3 linked regions of the Homo sapiens genome follow. Each later gene encodes a partner of the first gene's protein in a complex. Each region holds a gene or a part of one and is shown in the gene's direction. Other genes may lie near its edges. The genes, in order: AURKA, TPX2 and TACC3.

Evidence for each region.
Region 2: the proteins of AURKA (region 1) and TPX2 are in contact, whole or in part, in a crystal structure (PDB 3HA6), measured with the Homo sapiens proteins. Residues at the interface, in NP_001310232.1 of Homo sapiens: Lys125, Arg126, Gln127, Trp128, Asp132, Glu152, Gln154, Ser155, Phe157, Leu159, Lys166, Glu170, Gly173, Glu175, Leu178, Arg179, Val182, Glu183, Ile184, Ser186, His187, Leu188, Arg189, Tyr197, Gly198, Tyr199, His201, Val206, Tyr246, Ser249; in NP_036244.2 of Homo sapiens: Gln3, Lys5, Ser6, Ser7, Tyr8, Ser9, Tyr10, Asp11, Ala12, Pro13, Ser14, Asp15, Phe16, Ile17, Phe19, Ser20, Ile31, Asp32, Trp34, Phe35, Glu36, Lys38, Ala39.
Region 3: the proteins of AURKA (region 1) and TACC3 are in contact, whole or in part, in a crystal structure (PDB 5ODT), measured with the Homo sapiens proteins. Residues at the interface, in NP_001310232.1 of Homo sapiens: Leu130, Phe133, Glu134, Ile135, Gly136, Arg137, Tyr148, Leu149, Ala150, Arg151, Ile158, Val163, Arg205, Tyr207; in NP_001428248.1 of Homo sapiens: Glu523, Ser524, Phe525, Arg526, Pro528, Val531, Leu532, Gly533.

The regions. Positions count from the first base shown.
Region 1 is NC_000020.11:56,389,183-56,396,960, reverse strand, and holds the start of AURKA (aurora kinase A), read left to right. Parts: upstream 1-4,745; 5' UTR 4,746-4,793; exon of another isoform or gene 4,794-5,170; intron 5,171-6,295; exon of another isoform or gene 6,296-6,405; intron 6,406-7,778. Other genes in the region: CSTF1 (cleavage stimulation factor subunit 1), read right to left, coding at 1,240-1,408. UniProt on the Homo sapiens protein: Mitotic serine/threonine kinase that contributes to the regulation of cell cycle progression.
Region 2 is NC_000020.11:31,734,950-31,742,297, forward strand, and holds the start of TPX2 (targeting protein for Xklp2), read left to right. Parts: upstream 1-4,340; 5' UTR 4,341-4,672; intron 4,673-7,348. UniProt on the Homo sapiens protein: Spindle assembly factor required for normal assembly of mitotic spindles. Required for normal assembly of microtubules during apoptosis. Required for chromatin and/or kinetochore dependent microtubule nucleation.
Region 3 is NC_000004.12:1,731,521-1,738,621, forward strand, and holds part of TACC3 (transforming acidic coiled-coil-containing protein 3), read left to right. Parts: intron 1-3,752; coding exon 3,753-3,805; intron 3,806-4,210; coding exon 4,211-4,314; intron 4,315-5,720; coding exon 5,721-5,808; intron 5,809-6,077; coding exon 6,078-6,182; coding exon of another isoform or gene 6,183-6,194; intron 6,195-6,827; coding exon of another isoform or gene 6,828-6,872; exon of another isoform or gene 6,873-7,101. UniProt on the Homo sapiens protein: Plays a role in the microtubule-dependent coupling of the nucleus and the centrosome. Involved in the processes that regulate centrosome-mediated interkinetic nuclear migration (INM) of neural progenitors.

The DNA.
Region 1 (7,778 bases):
TTCTTGCCTCCAGAGTTTACTACTTTATCTACAACTACAGAAACTCAAAAAATAGCAGTTCTGTAGTTAAATTATCCATTTTTTTCCATTCCAAATTTTAATATTTTTAGGGTTGAGATATATTAGCAGCTCTGATGCTCGTTAAGTTAGCTACATTGTTAACATGAATGCTAGTGAAATGTTTTTGAAATAAAGTTATTTAAAAAAAACTGGTTTATCAAGAATATGCATTTAAAATTTATAAATAACTTGACAAATCAAATAATATGTTGATTAGTAGAGGAAAAATTAACACTATGGATGAACAAGAAAATAAAAATGACCTTGAATTTTACCACCCAGAGATAATAACTGTTAACGTATCGGTATAAATTCTTAGGGATCCTTCCCCGTGCACGGCTGTTTTATTTTTCAAAACAGTAATAGAGCAATGCTGTGTAACATGTTGTGACTCACTTGTTCACTTAATCAAGCAGAACAAAAGTGTATCTTGGCTAATAAATATTCATCTATATAATTATGTTATAGTATTCACTTTTATGGATATTTAAAAATTTACAGCTAATTCCATGTTGTTGGCATTGCAGTTTGTCCATTTTATTTCCCCAGGAGAAATGCTCACAATTGGCACTGCCAAGTCAAAGGGTATTAACATGTTTGGTAATTCAATATTTTATTGAGTGCTTTCTATTATTAGCCAGGTAGGCTCCAGGATATACTGCTGAATAATACAAGGTCCTGATCCTTACTCAACTTGTAGTCTTTTTTGACAAGGGGGCAGCAGTAGGTGGGAAGTGTGGAGGTAAGGATCCCATGGGAAACAGCCCAAATGATAAAGGAAATTTCAAAACAACTGTTATAAAACAAATGGGATCGCTATGGCAGGGTAACCGGGAAAATGCACGAAAGGGTCGGATTATTTTAGGAGGAGTTAAGAGAACTCAGATGACATTTGATGTAAAATCTGAAGGAAGTCAGTAATATGTCTGACAGAGTGTTCCAGATAATGTGTACAAAGACCCTCAGGCCAGAACCAGCTTAAGGTCTTCATAATCTGAACTTTGCTTTACCCCTTACTTACTGAGCTACTTCCTGAACTCATGCTGAACTACTTACTTACTGAAGTACCCGGCTCATACTAGGTACTGAAACAAAACAAGAATAATCTTGAAAAATTCTGCCATATGAAAATATCTAAAACCTTGCCATGGGACGTATGGATTTGTGTTCACAATCTACCGAGTTTGATGAGATGCAGGAGCTGCTCCGAGGGTGCACACACAGACTGAGGCTTGATTTCATTGATGAGGCCATTGGCGATGCTGATGTAGCCGTCATATAGCAGCTGGCTAATGATCAGCTTGTAGAGCTGCTGGCGGTCCTTCAAGCCCACTTTGGTTCTGTACATCTTGGAGAAAAGGAAGACAGTTTCCCTGCCAGCTGCAAAAACGGAAAATGGACGGTGAAGGGTACAGGCTCTAGTAAATCACAGAAGCAACATAGGACTCTTTGGTCAGACTTAATCTTGCAGGACTCAAATCCCATCTCTACTAGCTGCATTATCTTTGGTCAGTGACCTCATTTCTCTAAGCCTGAGGTTCTTCAGCTGTTAAGTTACTGGAAGTTAAACACGGTGGTGCATATAAAGCCCTGAGCACAGTGCCTGGCATACAGAAATTGTTCAAGTCATGTTAGCCAGTGTTTACGGTACAATCTCTCACCAACTTTTCTTCTCCACCAAACTAGCTACCTATGATTTTTGTTCTTTATTGTTATCCCAGAATCTTCCATTACTTCTGTTAATTAAACATTGACTGGTACCTGCAATATGCAAGATAGCTGCTATTTTGTCAAGATCTAGACTGCTGGTTCCACTAGCTGAGCTGTATGTTTACTAATCTTTTATGCTCATTCTCAAAACCTGTTTTAAGGCAACTGAGCTTGTTACTGTAATTATATAATCTAATTAGACAGTAAATCAAAATATGAAGCAAAAAAAAGCAACTGTACTACAAAAACTCCAACCGAGTTAAATGCGTTAGAAAGGCTCAAAGGTGAGCTGCCCAATAAAATATTGCCAATCAAGGTCAAAACAATAAAAATGAAAAAAAAAACAGTAATAATCGGGAAGGATTGTGCATGCACTGACTTACAAGTGTCTAAGTTTTCCTTCAGTCTTAAGAGACAAAAAACTGTAAATGGTTTCTGGCTTATTCAAAAAAGAACTCCAACTGTTCAACATGATAATTTGCTTACCAAAAATCAATGCCTTTATGTATGTGTATGTTTGGACCAAGATTAAAAGGCTACAGGTGTCTGGGGACAGCAATAAAGAATAAAAGTGACCTCAGAGCCTGATTTCTTTTTTCTTTTTGAGACGGAGTCTCGCTCTGTCGCCCAGGCTTGAGGGCAGTGGCGCGATCTCGGCTCACTGCAACCTCCGCCTCCTGGGTTCAAGCTATTCTCCTGTCTCAGCCTCCCGAGTAGCTAAGACTACAGGCGCCCGCCACCACACCAGGCTAATTTTTGTATTTTTAGTAGAGACGGGGTTTCACCATATTGGCCAGGCTGGTCTCGAAACTCCTGACCTCAGGTGATCTGCCTGCCTCCGCCTCCCAAAGTGCTGGGATTACGGGCGCGAGCCACTGCGCCTGGCCCAGAGCCTGATTTCTTACACACTGTATGACACTGATGGTGTTAATAATAACCAATAACATTAAGCACTTCCTGCATGCCAGATACCGTCATGCTAAGTACTTTGTAAGCATCAGTTCACTGAATAAAATCATTCAATGTATTCAAGTATATGAAGTAGTACATGAACATAGTAGGTCTATGCTTGAGTAGAAAATCCTGGGACACAAATAAAGATGATGAAATGGGTTCAAGGAGGTCAGGACACCTACTCAACGTAAAAAGTGGCTGAGTTACTTGTCCAAGGTTAAAGCACACCAGAATTGCCAACTCCAGATCCCTGAGCTTAACCACTGAAGGAGTTCAGGAAATGCCAGCCCAAAACAAGATGCTTTGGCGGGCTGATTACCTTGAACTGAGGGCACCTGGAGAACAGCAGGCGGGAAGAGGCTTTCCCTGTGCTTTCCTTACCTGCCTAAAGTCTGACCCTCCAAAAATACCTCAATTGTCACGAATCCTTATAAACCAGGGAAGATTAACTCGGATCACATGAGAGATTAGAGGCTGACACCACCCAGAAGATCACCTATTCTGTCTGCATAACAAACTTGATTCACCATACATTTCCTCCGTTCACCGTCCCATAACTTGTGTTAGAGCTGCTTCCCGCCCCCCGCCCCCAATTCTCTATTCATTCCTTTCAGTAGCTCAGGATGCCATGTAGGCTTTAATCATCTGACTTCAACTTTTAGTCTCGTATTTTGTGGGACTCCTGTACGTAATTAAATATCGTTTTTCTCCCATGGACAATGTTCAGTTACCCGAAAAAAATGGGAGATTCTTAAGTACCAATAAAGAATGAAAATCACAAGTGGGTAGTCTGGCAAAGAAAAGTTGATGAGAGATTCTACTGTTAACGTTGGGTTAATATGACTCGAATAATTTCCGTATGCTAGCTCAATGCTTTACATGCACATCCTGTTTACCCTGCAGTAATCTGTTAATTCGTCTTATGTGAATTTAACTCTTAGTCCTAATAAGGTACCTGGAAGGATGGAGGGAAGCCATTTTTGGTTCCCCTACACCACTGTTCTATCCGGTCTCTTCACTTCTGCTGAGCACATCCCGGGTGTACATACACACACACACACACACATATGTGTGTGTATATATATGTATATGTGTGTGTGTGTGTATATATATATATATTTTAAGTGGCCCACCCCTAACTTCTCAACTCCCACAGAACGTTCACTCGCCAGGTAAACAGAAGCCTAATTATCCCCAATTTGCAGGTGAGCACACGAGGACAAGAACCCGATCCAGGACCGGATACATCGCAGTTGGAAAGGCTAGAACACAGATGCCCCCTCACTATATGCGCCGCGACCATCTGGATGCAGAGGCGAACTAAGGACTGGGTGGGAATGGAAGCGAGGCCCTTCGAGAAGAGGAAGGGGTGCAGGCCAAGCCGGGCAACTTAGGAAACGCAAAGTAGAGGCGCATGCCACCTTGCTAACTCTCGACTCTTCCAGTCTCGCCCCAGTCGTTTCTGTGGTTTTCTCTAAATGCCCCAGCCGACCGCACCAGCTACTCTCCCCGTGTCCCAGTACCAGCTGGTCCGGTTCTCTTGGTATCCCGCTCTCTCCTGGAAAAATGGAGGCGCGAATCCTGCCCAATCTACCGCTCCGAGCGCACGTTCACTGCGCACGCTGAAAGGGCGCCAAGCCGACCGCTGCGCTATCGATCGGTCCCACTCTCTCTTGCTTTTCTCGCCATCTTACTTACTGGCACGTTCAAAGGTTAGTTCACCTCCTTGGACTTTATCTCCAATGCGTCAAGCTTGACGTCAAGGGGCTGTTGCTTCACCGATAAATGGCCGACCGCGGAGAGCACCCTGGGGCTGGGACTGCCACAGGTCTGGCTGGCCGTTGGCTCCACCACTTCCGGGTTCTTAGGGAGCAAGTGCGCCTGCGCGCGGTGTGCGCCCTTAAACGCGACTCAAGGCGTCGGGTTTGTTGTCAACCAATCACAAGGCAGCCTCGCTCGAGCGCAGGCCAATCGGCTTTCTAGCTAGAGGGTTTAACTCCTATTTAAAAAGAAGAACCTTTGAATTCTAACGGCTGAGCTCTTGGAAGACTTGGGTCCTTGGGTCGCAGGTGGGAGCCGACGGGTGGGTAGACCGTGGGGGATATCTCAGTGGCGGACGAGGACGGCGGGGACAAGGGGCGGCTGGTCGGAGTGGCGGAGCGTCAAGTCCCCTGTCGGTTCCTCCGTCCCTGAGTGTCCTTGGCGCTGCCTTGTGCCCGCCCAGCGCCTTTGCATCCGCTCCTGGGCACCGAGGCGCCCTGTAGGATACTGCTTGTTACTTATTACAGCTAGAGGTACAAGGGGTTTGTTGAGTGGTGTTGACATGCGCGGGAGGGGTGGGTGGGCTTCAGATTGGATTTTGTCCTCCGAGATCACCTGGGTAAGAAAAGCACAGAAGGTCTCTGCTGTGTTGGAGTTCACGTTCTAGTGGGTGGGGAGACAGACGGTAAGCGTACGGAGAACTTGCAGCTGGGGTGGGTGTTACAGAGGAAAAGCAGGAGTGCGGTTTAACGGGGGCCGCTTTAGATAGAATAGCCTAAGAAGGCCCTTGTCCTGGCTGGATGAGTGGGTGAATTGATGAATGAGAACCTCCTTGCAGAGGCCTTCCCGGTCCGTACTTCTCAGACCGTAGACCTTGGAGCAGTTGTACCGGGATAACTTGCAGTGCTTGTTAAACATATAGCTCCACCGAGAGCCCGGTAAATCAGAATCTCTGAGGGGTAGGACCCAGGTGTCTAGTTATTAACAAACTCTCCAGATGATTCTTAGGTTTCATTGAGAACTAGGGATGCAGACCGGTGCATACAAATCGTCTGGGGACGTTAAAATGCAGAATCTGTTTTTTTAGACCTGGGGTTAGGCCTCAGAGTCTCCATTTCTAAGAACCATCCGGCTGAGGTAGACGTAGCCACTGTCCTTAACTCTCGTAATGTCTCTTCCTCTTCCGTAACCTTCCTTGTCCCTTGAATTAAACGTTTTTCAGCAACCTACTCAGTTCGTCCTTCCCTTCATCTCTGCAGACATGCACAGGTCTGAGGGAGGAAGGAATAAACCGTATAAACCTCCTGCGCTATTAGCCTAACAGCTTTTCTATTCAAAATAGTAGGACTTCTGGTTTGAACTGAATGGATCCTGTGAAAGTCATCTGGTTCTTCAATCTGGTTGCAGATTAGAGTCACCTGAAGGGCAGTCTCCTTGGCGTTGTCTCCAGAATTCTGGATTAGAATCTTATTCCATTCTGCTTGTTATTCAATTTCCCTAGAAAGAAAGGTAGAATAAATTGGAGCAAATGCCTGTAGCTTCTGTCAGAAGAATGTTGAATAAATGTTGTTAGGCCTATGTGATCTCATTAGACTGCTACTTAGAATTGTAAGGGAAGTAAAGCATTAGAGCATGTGTGAAATTAAATATTTGATTAACACAAGTGTGCATTTCCTTGTTGCTGTTTATCAACTTTTACTTACCCACTGTTTTTTTATAAGGGCTGCAGCCTGTAGTCTGGGCCTGGCTTCATCATGGAATTATTTGCTTAATTGTAAAATGGTAATCTTAATTTTTTTTTTTGAGACAGGGTCTCACTCCATTGCCCAGGCCAGAGTGCGGGGATATTTGATAAGAAACTTCAGTGAAGGCCGGGCGCGGTGGCTCATGCCCGTAATCCCAGCATTTTCGGAGGCCGAGGTGGGTGGATCACCTGAGGTCGGGAGTTCCAGACCAGCCCTACCAACATAGAGAAACCCTGTCTCTACTAAAAATACAAAATCAGCTGGGCGTGGTGGTGCATGTCTGTAATCCCAGCTACTCTGGAGGCTGAGGCAGGAGAATTGCTTGAACCCAGGAGGTGGAGGTTGCGGGTGAGCCGAGATTGCGCCATTGCACTCCAGCCTGGGCAACAAGAGCAAACTCTATCTCAAAAAAAAAAAAAAAGAAACCTCAGTGAAATGAAAGACTGAACTACACACCTGGGGGAAAAGCGTAATAAAGGGAGCAAGAAGTGCAAATGCTTATGGCAGGGGACTTATTTGCAGAAAGAAAGCCTTGTGTGGCTGGTACACGGTTGACAAGAAGAGGAGATGAAGTCAGAGAGGTAGTTAGGGTCCATGTTCTGTGAGACTTCAATAGGCCTGTCTATGCAGGTTAGGAGTTTGCATTGTTTTGATTGAGTTGGGAGCCATGGGGGTCTTCTGAACTGAGGATCAACACATCTGATTTGTTAATGAGATTGCCGGCCTCAGTGTTAAGAATGGACCATGACAGGGTAAGGGTGGAAGTGGGGAGGCCATTGGGAGGCTGTTGGAAAAAACTCAAGGGAGAGAGAATAATGGTTTGACCAGGTGGTAGTAGTAGAGGTGGTGAGCAGTGATCTTGAAGGCAGAGCCTACAGAATATGCTGGTGGATTAAATGAAGGGTTTGCGAGAGAGAACCTCGTAAAGGGTTATTATGCCAAGGCTTTTGGCCTGAGCAACTGACAGGATGGGTTTGCCATGCACTGAGATGAGGATGTCTAGAGACTAGATTTGGGGAGGTGAGAGTGGGGAGAGATTAGGACTTCTGTTTGGGACATGTTAGAATGGAGATGCCGCTCAGATAATCAGGTGCAGATGTTGCATAGAAAGTAGAAAATGTAGATCAAGAGTTCAGGGGAGAGGTCTGGGCTGAAGAATGAATATTTGGGAGTCCTCAGCCTGTAGATGGTACTGAAAGCAAAGAGACTGGATGTACTCGGCTAGGGAGTAATTGGAGATGGAGAAGTCATTCTAGGCCTGAGCTCAGGGCACACCCATGAACAGGGAGGTGAGAAGTGGAGAAGGGAAGAGGTTCAGTTTTGGATATGTTAGGATTGAGGTGCCTGGCAGACATTTTTGGGAGATCCTGGGCAAATCCTTGGATATCCAAGTCTGACAGTCCAAGGAGAGACTAGGGCAGAAGACGCACTTTGAGTGGTCCTCATGAAGGCATTTAGAGCTGAGGCACTGGGTGATATGGATCCCTGGTGAAGGTGTAGATGGAGAAGTGGAGGGTCCAGGGACTCGTTCTTGAGTCACCCCAGACC
Region 2 (7,348 bases), about 25 Mb from region 1:
GCACAAGAATTGTTTGAACCCAGGAGTCAGAAGTTGTAGTGAGCTGAGATTGTGCCACTACATGCCAGCCTGAGCGACAGACAGAGACTCTGTCTCAAAAAAAAAAAAAATAGTTGTCAATAGTTGTCCACACCCATCTATACTCCTACCTGCTGAGTTACCTTACAAATTTCTGATACTATCAAACTTTTAATTTTGGTTAATCTGATGGGTGAAAAATGGAACTTTCTTGTTTCAATTTCCTTTATTATAGTGAGGCTGAGCACCTTCATGTGTTTGATGGCCAGTTTTGTTTCTTCTTTTTTTTAGTGGAGGGTTGGGGGACAGGATCTTGCTCTGTCTCCCAGGCTGGAGTGTAGTGGCCTGATTTCAGCTCACTGCAACCTCCACCTTCCAGGTTCAGACGATCTTCCCACCTCAGCCTCTGGAGTAGCTGGGACTACAGGTGAGTACCACCATGCCCAGCTAATTTTTGTTTTTGTTTGTTTGTTTTTTTTGAGACAGAGTCTCACTCTGTCACCCAGGATGGAGTGCAATGGCATGGTCTTGGCTCACTGCAACCTCTGCCTCCTGGGTTCAAGCGATTCTCCTGCCTCAGCCTCCTGAGTAGCTGGGACTACAGGTGCGTACCACCATACCTGGCTAATTTTTGTATTTTTTGTAGAGACGGGGTTTCATTATGTTGGCCAGGCTGGTCTCAAACTCCTGACCTCGTGACCCCCCCTCCTCAGCCTCCCAAAGTGCTGGGATTACAGGCATGAGCCACTGTGCCAGGCCTATTAAGTTTTGTATTTTTTGTAGAGAAGGGGTTTTGCCATGTTGCCCAGGCTGGTCTCGAACTCCTGACCTCAAGTGATCTGCCCCCGCCCCCCACCCCCGGCCTCCTGAAGTGCTGGGATTACAGGCGTGAGCCACTGCGCCTGGCCTACTAAATTCTGATATACATGAGTTCTGGATTTTGTTTTTGTTTTTAAAGACAGGACCCAGCTCTGTCGCCCAGGCTGGAGAATCATGGCTCGCTGCAGCCTTGACCTCCCAAGCTCAAGTGATCCTCATACCTCAGCTTCTTGAGTAGCTGGGACTACAGGTACGCACCACCTCACCTGGCTAATTTTAAAAGTTTTTTGTATCTTGCCATGTTGTCCAGGCTGATTTCAAACTCCTGGCTCAAGCAATCTTCCCGCCTCTGCTTTCCAAAGTGCTAAGATTACAGGCATGAGCCACCATAACTGGCTGAGTGTGTTTCTGGACTCTTAAACTCTTCTACTGATTTCCCCCACTTTTAACTTCTACGACAATACCATACTTAAAAATACCTTTATTTATTTATTTATTTTTGAGATGGAGTTTCACTCTTGTTGCCCAGGCTGGAGTGCAATGGCGCGATCCTGGCTCACCACAACCTCCACCTCCCGGGTTCAAGCGATTCTCCTGCCTCAGACTCCCGAGTAGCTGGGATTACAGGCGCCTGCCACCATGCCCGGTTAATTTTCTATTTTTAGTAGAGACGGGGTTTCTCCATGTTGGTCAGGCTGGTCTGGAACTCCCGACCTGAGGTGATCTGGCCGCCTTGGCCTCCCAAAGTGCTGGGATTACAGGCATGAGTCACTGTGCCCAGCAAAAATACTTTTTTTTTTTTTGAGACGGAGTCTTGCTCAGTCACCCAGGCTGGAGTGCAGTGGCGCGATCTTGGCTCACTGCAAGCTCCGCCTCCCGGGTTCATGCCATTCTTCTGCCTCAGCCTCCCAAGTAGCTGGGACTACAGGCACCCGCCACCATGCCCGGCTAATTTTTTTTGTATTTTTAGTAGAGACAGGGTTTCACCGTGTTAGCCAGGATGGTCTCAGTCTCCTGACCTCGTGATCCACCCGCCTCGGTCTCCCAAAGTGCTGGGATTACAGGCGTGAGCCACCGCGCCAGGCCAAAAATACCTCTTTTTAGACAAGGTGCCATGGCTCATGCCTGTAATCCCAGCACTGTGGGAGGCTGAGGTGGGAAGATCACTTGAGTCTGGGAGGTTGGGGTTGGAGTGAGCCGTGATCCTGCCACTGCACTCCAGCCTGGGTGACAGCAAGACCCTATCTCAAAATAACAAAACAACCACCACAACAACTACCACTCCCCCATCCCTTTGTTTTTGAGGTAGAGTCTTGCTCTGTCGCCCAGGCTGGAGTGCAATGGCACCATCTTGGCTCACTGCAACCTCTGCCTCCTGGGTTTAAGTGATTCTCCTGCCTCAGCCTTCCAAGTAGCACCAGGCAACCACCCCATTTTAATTGTGGAAAATTTCAAACTCATACAAGAGTATATGTATGTATTTATGTATCATGAACCCATCACCAGGTTCAACAATTATCAATTTGTAGCTAATCTTGTTTCATCTAAATCCCCACCTACTTATCTTCACTGCCTACTCCCAATTATTTGGAAGCCAGTGCCAGAGTAATTTCATCCCTACCGTATCTATATGTATCTCTACAACACAAGGACTCTTAAAAAAGAAAACAAAAGGTGTGGTGGCTCACACCTGTAGTCCCAGCACTTGGGAGGGTGAGGCGGGGGCATCACCCGAGGTCAGGTGTTCGAGACTAGCCTGGTCAACATGGTGAAACCCCGTCTCTATCAAAAAATATAAAAATTAGCCGGGTGTGGTGGCGCATTTTTAATCCCGGGTACTTGGGAGGCTGAGGCAGGAGAAACCGGGAGGCGGAGGTTGCAGTGAGCTGAGATCACACCGTTGCACTCCAGCCTGGGCTACAAGAACGAAACTCCGTCTCAAAAAACAAAATGAAACAAAACAACAACAACAAAAAGAAAACAAAACCAAACTCTGGCAGTTTATGTTTTGAAGGAACTAAATTGTCCTGTGGTTTTCCTGTCTGGATTTTGCCGATTGCACCCCCATGGGTGTGAATTAACTGAACCATACTTTAAAAATTACTATAATTTCATGTTAATATGTACAAAATCTGTACATAAATCCCCCAATCTTTTTCAAAATTCAAGATGCCAGTACTTGTACTCTTCCATAGGAACTTTAGAATTAACTTGGCAAATTCCAGAACAGAACCCACTGGGACTTTCATTGGAATTGCCTTGACCTTTTTTTTTTTGTTTTGAGACAGAGTCTCGCTCTGTTGCCCAGGCTGGAGTGCAGTGGTGCAATCTTGGCTCACTGCAACCTCCGCCTCCTGGGTTCAAGTGATTCTCCTGCCTCAACCTCCCAAGTAGCTGTGATTACAGGCACGCGCGAGCACGCCCGGCTAATTTTTGTATTTTTAGTAGAGATGGGGGGGGGTTTCAACATTTTGGCCAGGCTGGTCTCGAACTCATCGCCTCAAGTGATCTGCCTGTCTCGGCCTCCCAAAGTGCTGGGATTACATGCGTGAGCTACCGCACCCAGCCTAGGCTTAATTTTTGAATCTTTAGCTTTTGCTGGTATTATGAAGGGGGTTGTTTTGTTGTTCTTGTTGCTGCTATTTTCTAATTGATTAAAAAAAATTAAGATGGTGGGGGTGGTCTCGTTATGATGTCTACGCTGTTCTGGAACTCTTGGTCTCAAGGGATCCTTCTGCTTTAGCCTCCTGTGGAGCTGGGATTATAGGTGAGCGCCACGAAGCCCGGCCTCTAATTAATTATCGGTGGTGTATAAAAAGAACAGACCTTCTTAATTCGAATCCCATCTTCTCCATTTATTATGTGATTTTGGACATGTTTGTTCAACTTCTCCTAGACTTTGTTTTCTTTTTACGACATGGGGATCATAAAGCCGGGATGCAGTTGGGAATAAAACCGGATAAAGCTCCCAACGAACCGCGGGTTTCATAAGATCAGGGCAGGGACTGGGTAAAAGGTTTCAAAGACTCCTGCACTATTGGGAAGGACGCTACGGGCGAGTCTATGTTGCATGCAGGCGACTCCATGTTAAGACGAAGTGAACTCCCTGAACCTTCAAGGGATAATGCACAACCATAACGAGAATAATTTTTAAAAATAGAGTTTTCTTCCCTGAAAACTTGGAGAGGTCCAGGATGCGCGCCATTCTGTGATCTAGGTTGACTCTCCACCTCTTCAGTTGGTACCACCTTTCCCAAATAGTTTGGAGCAGAGCACTCCGGTCTTTGTAATAACGTACTCCTAAGAGCTGTTCCAGTGGACTCACGCAGGCGCAGGAGACTACACTTCCCAGGAACTCCGGGCCGCGTTGTTCGCTGGTACCTCCTTCTGACTTCCGGTATTGCTGCGGTCTGTAGGGCCAATCGGGAGCCTGGAATTGCTTTCCCGGCGCTCTGATTGGTGCATTCGACTAGGCTGCCTGGGTTCAAAATTTCAACGATACTGAATGAGTCCCGCGGCGGGTTGGCTCGCGCTTCGTTGTCAGATCTGAGGCGAGGCTAGGTGAGCCGTGGGAAGAAAAGAGGGAGCAGCTAGGGCGCGGGTCTCCCTCCTCCCGGAGTTTGGAACGGCTGAAGTTCACCTTCCAGCCCCTAGCGCCGTTCGCGCCGCTAGGCCTGGCTTCTGAGGCGGTTGCGGTGCTCGGTCGCCGCCTAGGCGGGGCAGGGTGCGAGCAGGGGCTTCGGGCCACGCTTCTCTTGGCGACAGGATTTTGCTGTGAAGTCCGTCCGGGAAACGGAGGAAAAAAAGAGTTGCGGGAGGCTGTCGGCTAATAACGGTAACGATAATTATTGTTATTACCATGCTAACAGGTTATAAACATTGACTGAACTAAGCACCCTGCATGCCCGTTCTCATTTAATTTCCTCGCCAAGCCAATGTAGTTGGTGCTATTCTTGGTCCCTCTTGACAGAAACTGAGGAAGGAGGAAGGAGGAGGAAACTGAGGCCCAGAATCTAGATAAATTTCGAGAAATGGGTGATACAGTAGCCATGCCCTCAGGAAGTGTGGCGTTTGATGGAGGAAAACAGAGGTAGTCACAAATAAGTACATTTCAAAACTGTTGTCTAAAACAGGAAGATAATTAGATGGTGTGAGAACATAATTGAGGGAGAGTTTAAGTCCACTTGGAGTTGTCTTCTATTTGGGATTTAAAATTCATTATATGTTATCCATATTTGTCCAGCTCTCTTTTTGTATGGAATCACCAGATATTATTCCCTTTCTCATTTCCTTTCTCAACATTTATAGATTGGAGGGGGGAAGGAAAACCAAACCAGGTTATAATGTAGAATTGGTTTACCCCCTATTTTCTTGACATATAACGTCTGGTTTTCCACATATAATTTTCTAGTAGTTCAGTAACATGGACTCCCCCCAAATCAGGCCTACTTAGGATAGAAGAGGATTTTTGACTCCTGGATTTTGCTTTAAGACCAGCTCTTGGTTTACTTCCTGCTTCACCCTTACCTTTTCTTGACATCCTGTGGCCTCTCTTTGAATTTCTCTCACTCATCAAATGTTGTCAAAAATAGGACTACTTGCTGCTGTAGTAAGGATATTCTTGTATTGTGGCCTTAGTGTATTACATCACCCCCACGTCAGACTTGAGTCCCCCTGGTTGGTTTGGGTGAGTCAGTTCAGTATTAAGCTGGCATTCTTGGATCAAAATTATGTGGCTGTCAGCTAACTCAGCCATTTAGTTGACCTTTGAGGGTACTGTGCTCAGATTGGCATGAGATATTATGGGTGTACAGATATATGATGTACTCAAACGTTTTTTGGTATGTTTGGGGACAAAAACATGGTTTGAAATTGGCAAGTGAGAATCAGAGCAAGATAGGACACCATCTGGGTGCTCTACTGTTTTGTATTCTAGGTGTCTGGACAATTTAGAGGTGAGGGAGTTCAAGAGCCAGTTTGTGTTTCTGTGCTTCACAAAGCCACCCTTGTCTAATTCTTGATAACCAGAGTTTGGTTAGACAGGGACTGAAACAATCCTAGTGCATAGGAATCACCCACTAAATACCTGTTGAATTGAGTAGGCAGGAAGGCACTATCTGAATTGACTACAAAATTGCGGGTATGAAAAACTGGATTGTATTCAACTAGGTTGGTAAATTTGTTTAGACTTTCAAATTATCTGAATAGGGTTTATTTGGCCAACCTTATGCATAAATCTGTGTATTCCAACCTTGATAAAATTAATTTATTGCAATTAAGTTTGTCCAGGATTATGTGAGAGAGTCCTTCATTTCATTTCTTTAGTTACCAGGAGATGTTCAGGGCTCATCTACATCTCCTGGTTAATTTTCCTTCAGCTTTTTCTGTGTCTCTTCCCTAATTCTCTTTGAGTTCCTGGGAGAAAGAGGAGGGATATTTAAATGCCCTTTGACATACTTAATTTTCTTTGCTATGGGCAAAGTTAGGAAGCAAAATTGACTATAGAGTTGTTTTTTTTGTTTTTGTTTTTGTTTTTTTTTTTTGAGACGGAGTCTCACTCTGTCGCCCAGGCTGGAGTGCAGTGGCGCGATTTCAGCTCACTGCAACTTCTGCCTCCCCTGTTCAAGCAATTCTCCTACCTCAGTCTCTTGAGTAGCTGGGATTATAGGGATCTGCCACCACACCCGGCTAATTTTTGTATTTTTTTTTTGAGATGGCATCTCACTTTGTTACCTAGGCTGGAGTGCAATGGTGCGCTCTCGGCTCACTGCAACCTCCGCCTCCTGGGTTCAAGCAATTCTCCTGCCTCAGCCTCCCAAGTAGCTGGGACTACAGGCGCATGCCACCACACCCGGCTAGTTTTTTTGTATTTTTAATAGAGATGGGGTTTCACCATGTTAGCCAGGATGGTCTCAATCTCCTGACCTCGTAATCTGCCTGCCTCGGCCTCCCAAAGTGCTGGGATTACAGGTGTGAGCCACTGTGCCTGGCCTAATTTTTGTATTTTTAGTAGATACAGGGTTTCACCACGTTGGCCAGGCTAGTCTCAAACTCCTTATCTCAGGTGATCCACCTGCCTCGGCCTCCCAAAGTGCTGGGATTACAGGTGTGAGCCACCTTGCCTGGCCTTAGAGAGATTTCATAACCCAAGCGATTCTGTGAATAGATCTGTATTTGAGACAGAGATGTAGAGATCAGCAGCCCAAGGTACTCTGTGAAAAAAGGATAGATAACTGCGGAGGGCTTCCGTTTTTGTTTGTGTAGGGAAACTTGGTAAAAGGGGAATAAAGAACAGTGAGAAAAGTATAAAATTGTATCTAGAGGTTACTTTGGAAATTAAAAATAATGTTATTTGTACTTAGTAAAACAAAGTAGTAAAAGTTTGCTCTTTTTTTTTTTTTTTTTTTGAGACAGTCTCACTGTGTTGCTCAGGCTGGAGTGCACTGGCTGGCGCAATCTTGGCTCACTGAAGCTTCCGCTTCCCAGGTTCAAGCGATTCTCCTGCCTCAGT
Region 3 (7,101 bases), on another chromosome or scaffold:
TGGAAACTGTAGACTCAGGAAAATGAGCAGGAGAGGTGAACAATGCAGTGCGCTAATGAGATACAAGTGTAGAGTCAACAACTGGATACTCGATCATCAGAAATACTGCTTGAAACGACCTTCTTTTTTTTTTCTGAGATAGTCTCGCTCTGTCACCCAGCCTGGAATGCAGTGGCACAATCTGGGTTCAATGCAACCTCCACTTCCCAGGTTCAAGAGATTCTCCTGCTCAGCCTCCCAAGTAGCTGGGATTACAAGCATGTACCACCACATCCAGCTAATTTTTGTACTTTTAGTGGCAACGGGGTTTCACCATGTTGGCCAGGCTGGTCTCAAACTCTGACCTCAAGTGATCCACCTGCCTCGGCCTCCCAAAGTGCTGGGATTGCACGCGTGAGCCCCCGCGCCCGGCCCAGAACCCCTTGATAATGAAATGTGAAGCCTGAACCTTAGACACCAGACTGCAGTTAAATACGGTTTGTCCGTAAGACTGGAGGCTGCAGTTGAATACGGTTTGTCCATAAGATTGGAGGCTGCACTTGAATACGGTTTGTCTGTAAGATTGGAGGCTGCAGTTAAACATGGTTTGTCCATAAGATTGGAGGCTGCACTTGAATACGGTTTGTCTGTAAGATTGGAGGCTGCAGTTAAATAAATACGGCTTGTCCGTAAGATTGGAGGCTGCAGTTAAATAAATACGGTTTGTCCGTAAGATTGGAGGCTGCAGTTAAATAAATACGGTTTGTCCGTAAGATTGGAGGCTGCAGTTAAATAAATACGGTTTGTCCGTAAGATTGGAGGCTGCAGTTGAATACGGTTTGTCCGTAAGATTGGAGGCTGCAGTTGAATACGGTTTGTCCGTAAGATTGGAGGCTGCAGTTAAATAAATACAGTTTGTCCGTAAGATTGGAGGCTGCAGTTAAATAAATACGGTTTGTCCGTAAGATTGGAAGGTGGAACGGTCCTTAAATTAAAGTGCATTTGGTAGGAATTGATGGCTGAGTTGTTTTAAAGGACACACAGCCAGGTGGGTATAAGATCTCAATTTAGAGAACTGAAAACCCAGGCACACAGCAGACACGAATGGCATGTAGGGTTTGTCGCTGACAGGATAGTTGTGGGCCGCCACCATGTGGGGATATCAGCTCAGCTGGGATGGGCCTGTCACCCTCACGCAGGATCCCTGGAATCACACAGCACGGCCTTCTGTGTCCGGCGTCTCCCTCGGGGAGGTGTGTTTCCGAGTCCTGGCCATGCTGGAGCAGGTGTGGGTGCTCCTGTCCTTGCCGTGGCAGCTTGGCTTCACATCATCTTATCCATTCATTCATGGATTTGCTGGTTTCTGCTTTTTAGCTGTCAGGAGTAGTGCTGCCTCGAATGTTCAGGTGTAAGTTCTATGTGGATGTATTCTTCCATTTCTCCTGGATACATAGCTAGGAGTGGAGTCGCTGGTCACAGTAACTCTGCTCACCTTTTAGCTACCAGGTGGCCTTCCAGAGTGGCTGCAGTGTTTCACATTCCCACTGGCAGTTATAAGAGAGCTCCAGTTTCTCCACATCCTCGCCAGCGCTGCTTGTCTGTCTTGTTGATCCTAGACTTCCAGCGGGTGGGAAGCGGATCTGGTTGCGGTTTTGATTTGCAGTTCCCAGGTGGCTCATGAACGAGCGTCTTTTTATGTGCTCGTTGGATATCTTCTTTGGGAAAGTGTCTGTCGAGATCCCTTGTCCATTGAGCCACTTATGTTTTTATTACTGAGTTTTAAGAGGTAAATCCCTTTTATTCAAGAAGTGAGGGAAAGGAAAAAATACAAAGTTAAGTCCCTTATCAGATGATGTTTCAAAGTATTGGCTTTTGGCCAGGCATAGGGGCCCACACTTGTAATCTCAGCATTTTGCGGGGCCGAGGCAGGATTGTTTGAGCCCTGTAGTTTGAGACTAACCTGGGCAACATGGCAAGACCTCATCTCTACCAAAAAAAACCTTTTTTTTTATTACCTGGCATGGTGGCGTACACCTATAGTCCCAGCTGCTCGGGAAGCTGAGATGGGAGGCTCGCTTGAGCCAGGAGGTCAAGGCTGCAGTGAGCCATGATTGCACTACTGCACTCCAGTCTGGGCGACAGCGAGACCCTATCTGAAGGAAAGAAAAAAAAGGCAGAAATGAAAACTGACAACAAGGCTAGGTGCGGTGGCTCACGCCCGTAATCCTAGCACTTTGGGAGGCTGAGGAGGGCGAATCACCTGAGATCAAGAGTTTGAGATCAGCCTGGCCAACATGGTGAAACCTCATCTCTACTAAAAATACAAAAATTAGCTGGGTGTGTTGGCACATGCCTGTAATCCTAGCTACTTGGGAGGCTGAGGCGGGAGAATCGCTTGAACCCAGGAGGCGGAGGTTGCAGTGAGCCGAGATGGCGCCACCGCACTCCACCTGAGCAACAGAGCAAGACTCTGTCTCAAAAAAAAAAAAAAGAAAAGAAAACTGACAAGGCCATAGCAGAGAAGGACCTACAAGTTTTTGCTAGACTAAATAATTGGCAACCGTTTTTTAGCTTAATTGAGAAAAGGAGAGAATGAGCAAATACTGCTAGGCATGAAGAAAGGGACAAAACTAGAGATGCCTCAGCCTGGATCTCAGCCAGATCAAGACCCTGTCTTAAAGTACCAGTTTGGTTTGTTTTTTTCCCGAGACGGAGTCTTGCTCTGTCGCCCAGGCTGGAGTGCAGTAGCATGATCTCAGCTTGTTGCAACCTCCGCCTCCTGGGTTCAAGCGATTCTCCTGCCTCAGCCTCCCAAGTAGCTGGGATTACAGGCTCATGCCACCGTGCCCAACTAATTTTTGCATTTTTCGTAGAGACAGGGTTTCCCCATGTTGGCCAGGCTGGCCTCAAACTCCTGACCTCAGGTGATCCACCTGCCTTGGCCTCCCAAAGTGCTGGGATTACAGATGTGAGCTACTGCGCCCAGCCACAGTTTAAGAGTTTTATAGTTTTAGAGGCCGAGACCGGAGGATCACTTGAAGTCAGGAGTTCAAGACCAGCCCTGGCAACGTAGCAAGACTCCTCCTCTACCAAAACAAAAAGTAGGATAGTTTTAACTCTCACAGTTAGGGTGTTGATCCATTCTGAGTTAATCTTTGTATGTGGTATGAGGCACCTTTTCTTTTTTTTTGCAACAGTTTTCCCTCCGCTGCCCAGGTTGGAGTGCAGTGGCATAATCTCAGCTCAGTGCAGCCTCCACCTCCCAGGCTCAAGGAGTTCTCCTGCCTCAGCCTCCCTGTAATAGGAGTGCAGCACCGCGCCTAGCTAATTTTTGTATTTTTTGTACAGACAAGGTTTTGCCCTGTTGAACTCCTGGGCTCAAGTGATCCACTCGCCTCAGCCTCCACCCTTAGTTTTAATCAAAAGTTATATTATCAAAAATTAAAAGACTTGTCTAGGGTAATTTTAAAGACTAATAGTTCTCAACCAGAGCAGTTTTGCCCCCGCCTTTCCCCAGATGTTTGTGGTTGTCACACCTGGAGGTGCTGCTGGCAGGGAGTGGGTAGAGGCTGGGGATGCCGCTCAGCACCCTGCGGTGCCCAGGAGGCGCCTGCCGCAGACAGCAGTCAGGCCCCGAACATCCACACCTCCAAGGGAGGAAATACTGCTGGCTGGAATGATCCTGCCTCACTGAGTGCTGAGGGAGACACCAGCCCGCCGCCCTTAGGGCCCTGGTGAGGGGCGATGGCGGCGGCATGATTCACTCCTCTCAGTTCTAGGCACGGGCGCGGAGGTGGATTACCTGGAGCAGTTTGGAACTTCCTCGGTAGGTACCAGGCAATTCCGCGAAGCCTCACCCACAGGGTGTCCGAGAGCAGCCACGGCAGGTCTTGCCCCCGGAGCGTCCCTTGGTGCCCACGTCCCCCCAGCTGCACACAGGCCCAGGCATTGTGGCGGGCTGTGAATCCAGGGCCCCTTCTGCAGCACCTCCTCTAAGTGGTGTCCTGTGGCAGGGCTCTAGGGCTCTCTACCTGGTGCCTAGCCCAGGATGAAACTCTGACACGCTGTGCTGCTGGGAATGGTGGTGTCTCGGGCAGGGTTGTGGGTGACCGGGGGTGGGAGTGTGCGGGTGACCGGGGGTGGGAGTGTGCAGGTGACCTCCCTGGCCCTTAGCCCCCGTGTGTGTTAGGGGATGGCAGTCAGACCTGATCACTTGCCCTCTTGTCCCCAGTTTAAGGAGTCGGCCTTGAGGAAGCAGTCCTTATACCTCAAGTTCGACCCCCTCCTGAGGGACAGTCCTGGTAGACCAGTGCCCGTGGCCACCGAGACCAGCAGGTATGTGCGCCGGCCCTCCCTCATGCATGAAGCCTTGAGTGTGGGAAGACTGGAGGCTGTTCCTAGGTGTGCTGTCTGCACAGAGGCTTCTAGACCGGGGGGAGATGATCAGAACTGGAAAGGAGCTGTGCTAGGGGTGGGCTGGGCAGCAAGGCCAGAGCAGCCCTTGTGTGTCTGGCAGGAGCAACGGCAGCCTACCCTCCAGCCACAGGGCTGCTGCCTTGCTGGTTACAGCCACCGTTCTAGGTATATTAAAGATCTAAACTTAAATCTTTTAAGAGTACTTCCTCTAAAACAGAGGTCGGCAGGCCAGGCGCGGTGGCTTACGCCTGTAATCCCAGCACTTTGGGAGGCCGAGGTGGATGGATAGCCTCAGCTCAGGAGTTTGCCACCAGCCTGGGCAACATGTTGAAACCCCGTCTCTACTAAAATACAAAAATTAGCCGGGTGTGACGGCATGCACCTGTAGTCTCAGCTACTTGGGAAGCCGAGGCAGGAGAATTGCTTGAACCCAGGAGGCGGAGGTTGCAGTGAGCTGAGATTGCGCCACTGCACTCCAGCCTGGGCAACAGAGTGAGACTCCATCTCAAAAAAAAAAAAAAAAAAAAAAACCAAAAAATAGAGGTCAGCAAACTATCACCTGTGGGCCAGACTTGGCCACTGCCTGTTTGTGTAAAGTTTTATCGTCACAGAGCCATGCCCGTTCCTTTGCAAATTGTGGCAACTTTCACACTACAAGGCCAGAACTGAGTAGTGTGACAGAGGCTGTGTGGCCTTCAAATCCTAACACATGGCCGGGCGCAGTGGCTCACACCTGGAATCCCAGCCCTTTGGGAGGCTGAGGCGGGTGGATCGCCTGAGGTCAGGAGTTTGAGACCAGCCTGGCCAACATAGTGAACCCCCATCTCTACTAAAAATAACAAAAATTAGCCGGGTGAGGCGGCAGGCGCCTGTAATCCCAGCTACTTGGGTTGCTGAAGCAGGAGAATCGGGTGAGCCTGGGAGGCAGGGGTTGCAGGGAGCCGAGATCATGCCACTGCACTCCAATCTGGGTGACAGAGTGAGACCCTGTCTCGGAAAAAGAAAAAAAAAAAGGCTCTGAGCTGTGAACAGCCCCCTGATGAGGCAGCACTGGCTCCGCTCAGCCTGCAGTGGGTAATGAAGCGTCACCGTGCTCTCCCGGAAGGACAAGCAGCCACGTGGGATGGGCAGGTGAGGGAGGGGGGCACGGAGCAGCAGAGAGGCCGGGCATGCTGGATGCGGGTCTGCGTTTTCTACCACTACCCTGACTTGAGTGGTTTTAAACTAAAAAGCAAAGAGCCCGGTTAGCTTGTCCACATGGTCCTCTGTGTCCTACTCAACACTGGGAGGGCCTAGTGACTGAGGCTGCCTCTGCTTGGTGGCAGCATGCACGGTGCAAATGAGACTCCCTCAGGACGTCCGCGGGAAGCCAAGCTTGTGGAGTTCGATTTCTTGGGAGCACTGGACATTCCTGTAAGTCCTTGAGTCCCTCTTGAACTGTCTTGTGTGTGGTCTGAGGGAACGAGTTGTTTTAAGGGCCTATATTTTCTATTCCTGGGGGTCTGAGCCTTTGGTTTTGTTGGGGGCATGGGGCCGCTGTGCTGTTCCCTCGCCGCACTGTCTCGGGTCCCTCATGCACTGTCTGAGGCTCTTGGCCTGTGTGGGCCTTTCCTCCCTCACACTAGGTCAGAGGTAAGAGGCAAGGGCGAAATGGGTTCCTGTTTCATCCCCATCTCCCGCAGGTGCCAGGCCCACCCCCAGGTGTTCCCGCGCCTGGGGGCCCACCCCTGTCCACCGGACCTATAGTGGACCTGCTCCAGTACAGCCAGAAGGACCTGGATGCAGTGGTAAGGACGCAGGTAGTAGCTATTCCACAGAACCTGCAGGCCGCTCTGGGGCTTGGCCAACAGTGGGCAGGGGTCCAACAGCCTGACCCGCCATCCCTGCCATCCCTGCCCCTGCTGGTTGGGGTGGAATTGCAGAGAGCTGCCGGCCCCTGGCCTGTCACTACTGCCCAGGTCGCTGAGGGTCCAGGCTTCCACCCAGTGTCCCCGCAGTCAGCTGCCCACCAGCAGCCTCCCCGGGACTCTCCGGCCTGGGCATGGCGTTGGCCTCTGGTGGCCTTGCAGCAGTGAGTGTGGTTCTTGCTGCCGTGAGCCCGAGTGTCGCCCCTTTCCTCCCGCCCTCCCACGAGTCCAGACGCATCTCCTGGCAGCTTAGGAAGCTCCATCTTCACCCACCCCACATCTGAGGGTCCCGTGCCTTGTCTCCCTCCATCCTCACTGTACATGCCAGGCTTCAGCCTGTTCTAACTCCGGGCCTAAATTGTCCCTAAGAGAGCTGTAGGCACACAAAGGGGCTGGGTGTCTGCAGGCACCACTGTGAGCTACCGTCGCCAGATGGTCCCCAGGGAGGTGCAGACAGGGTGGTTCCGGAGGCCGGCTGGCAGGGCTGGGTTCAAGCCCCAACATCCACACCAGTGTTGTTCACAGTGGCCCCAGGTGTCATCTCCGCAGAGGCCTGTGATGTGGCCCTGACCCCGTACCCCAACAACCTCCTTCCCTGTGTCAGAGCCCGTGTGAGTAACCCAATAGCAGGCCTGGGGACCACAGTGTGGCTGGCCCCCTCCTCTGCAGGCCTGGGCTCCGGGGGCAGGTGGCCCCTGCATGTAACTTATGTTAGAAATGCACAATGCTTGTTCTCTGGTGCCACAAAGAAATAGTGCTCGAACATTAATTTTCTCAGCAAGGCAGTTTTTACTTTCTG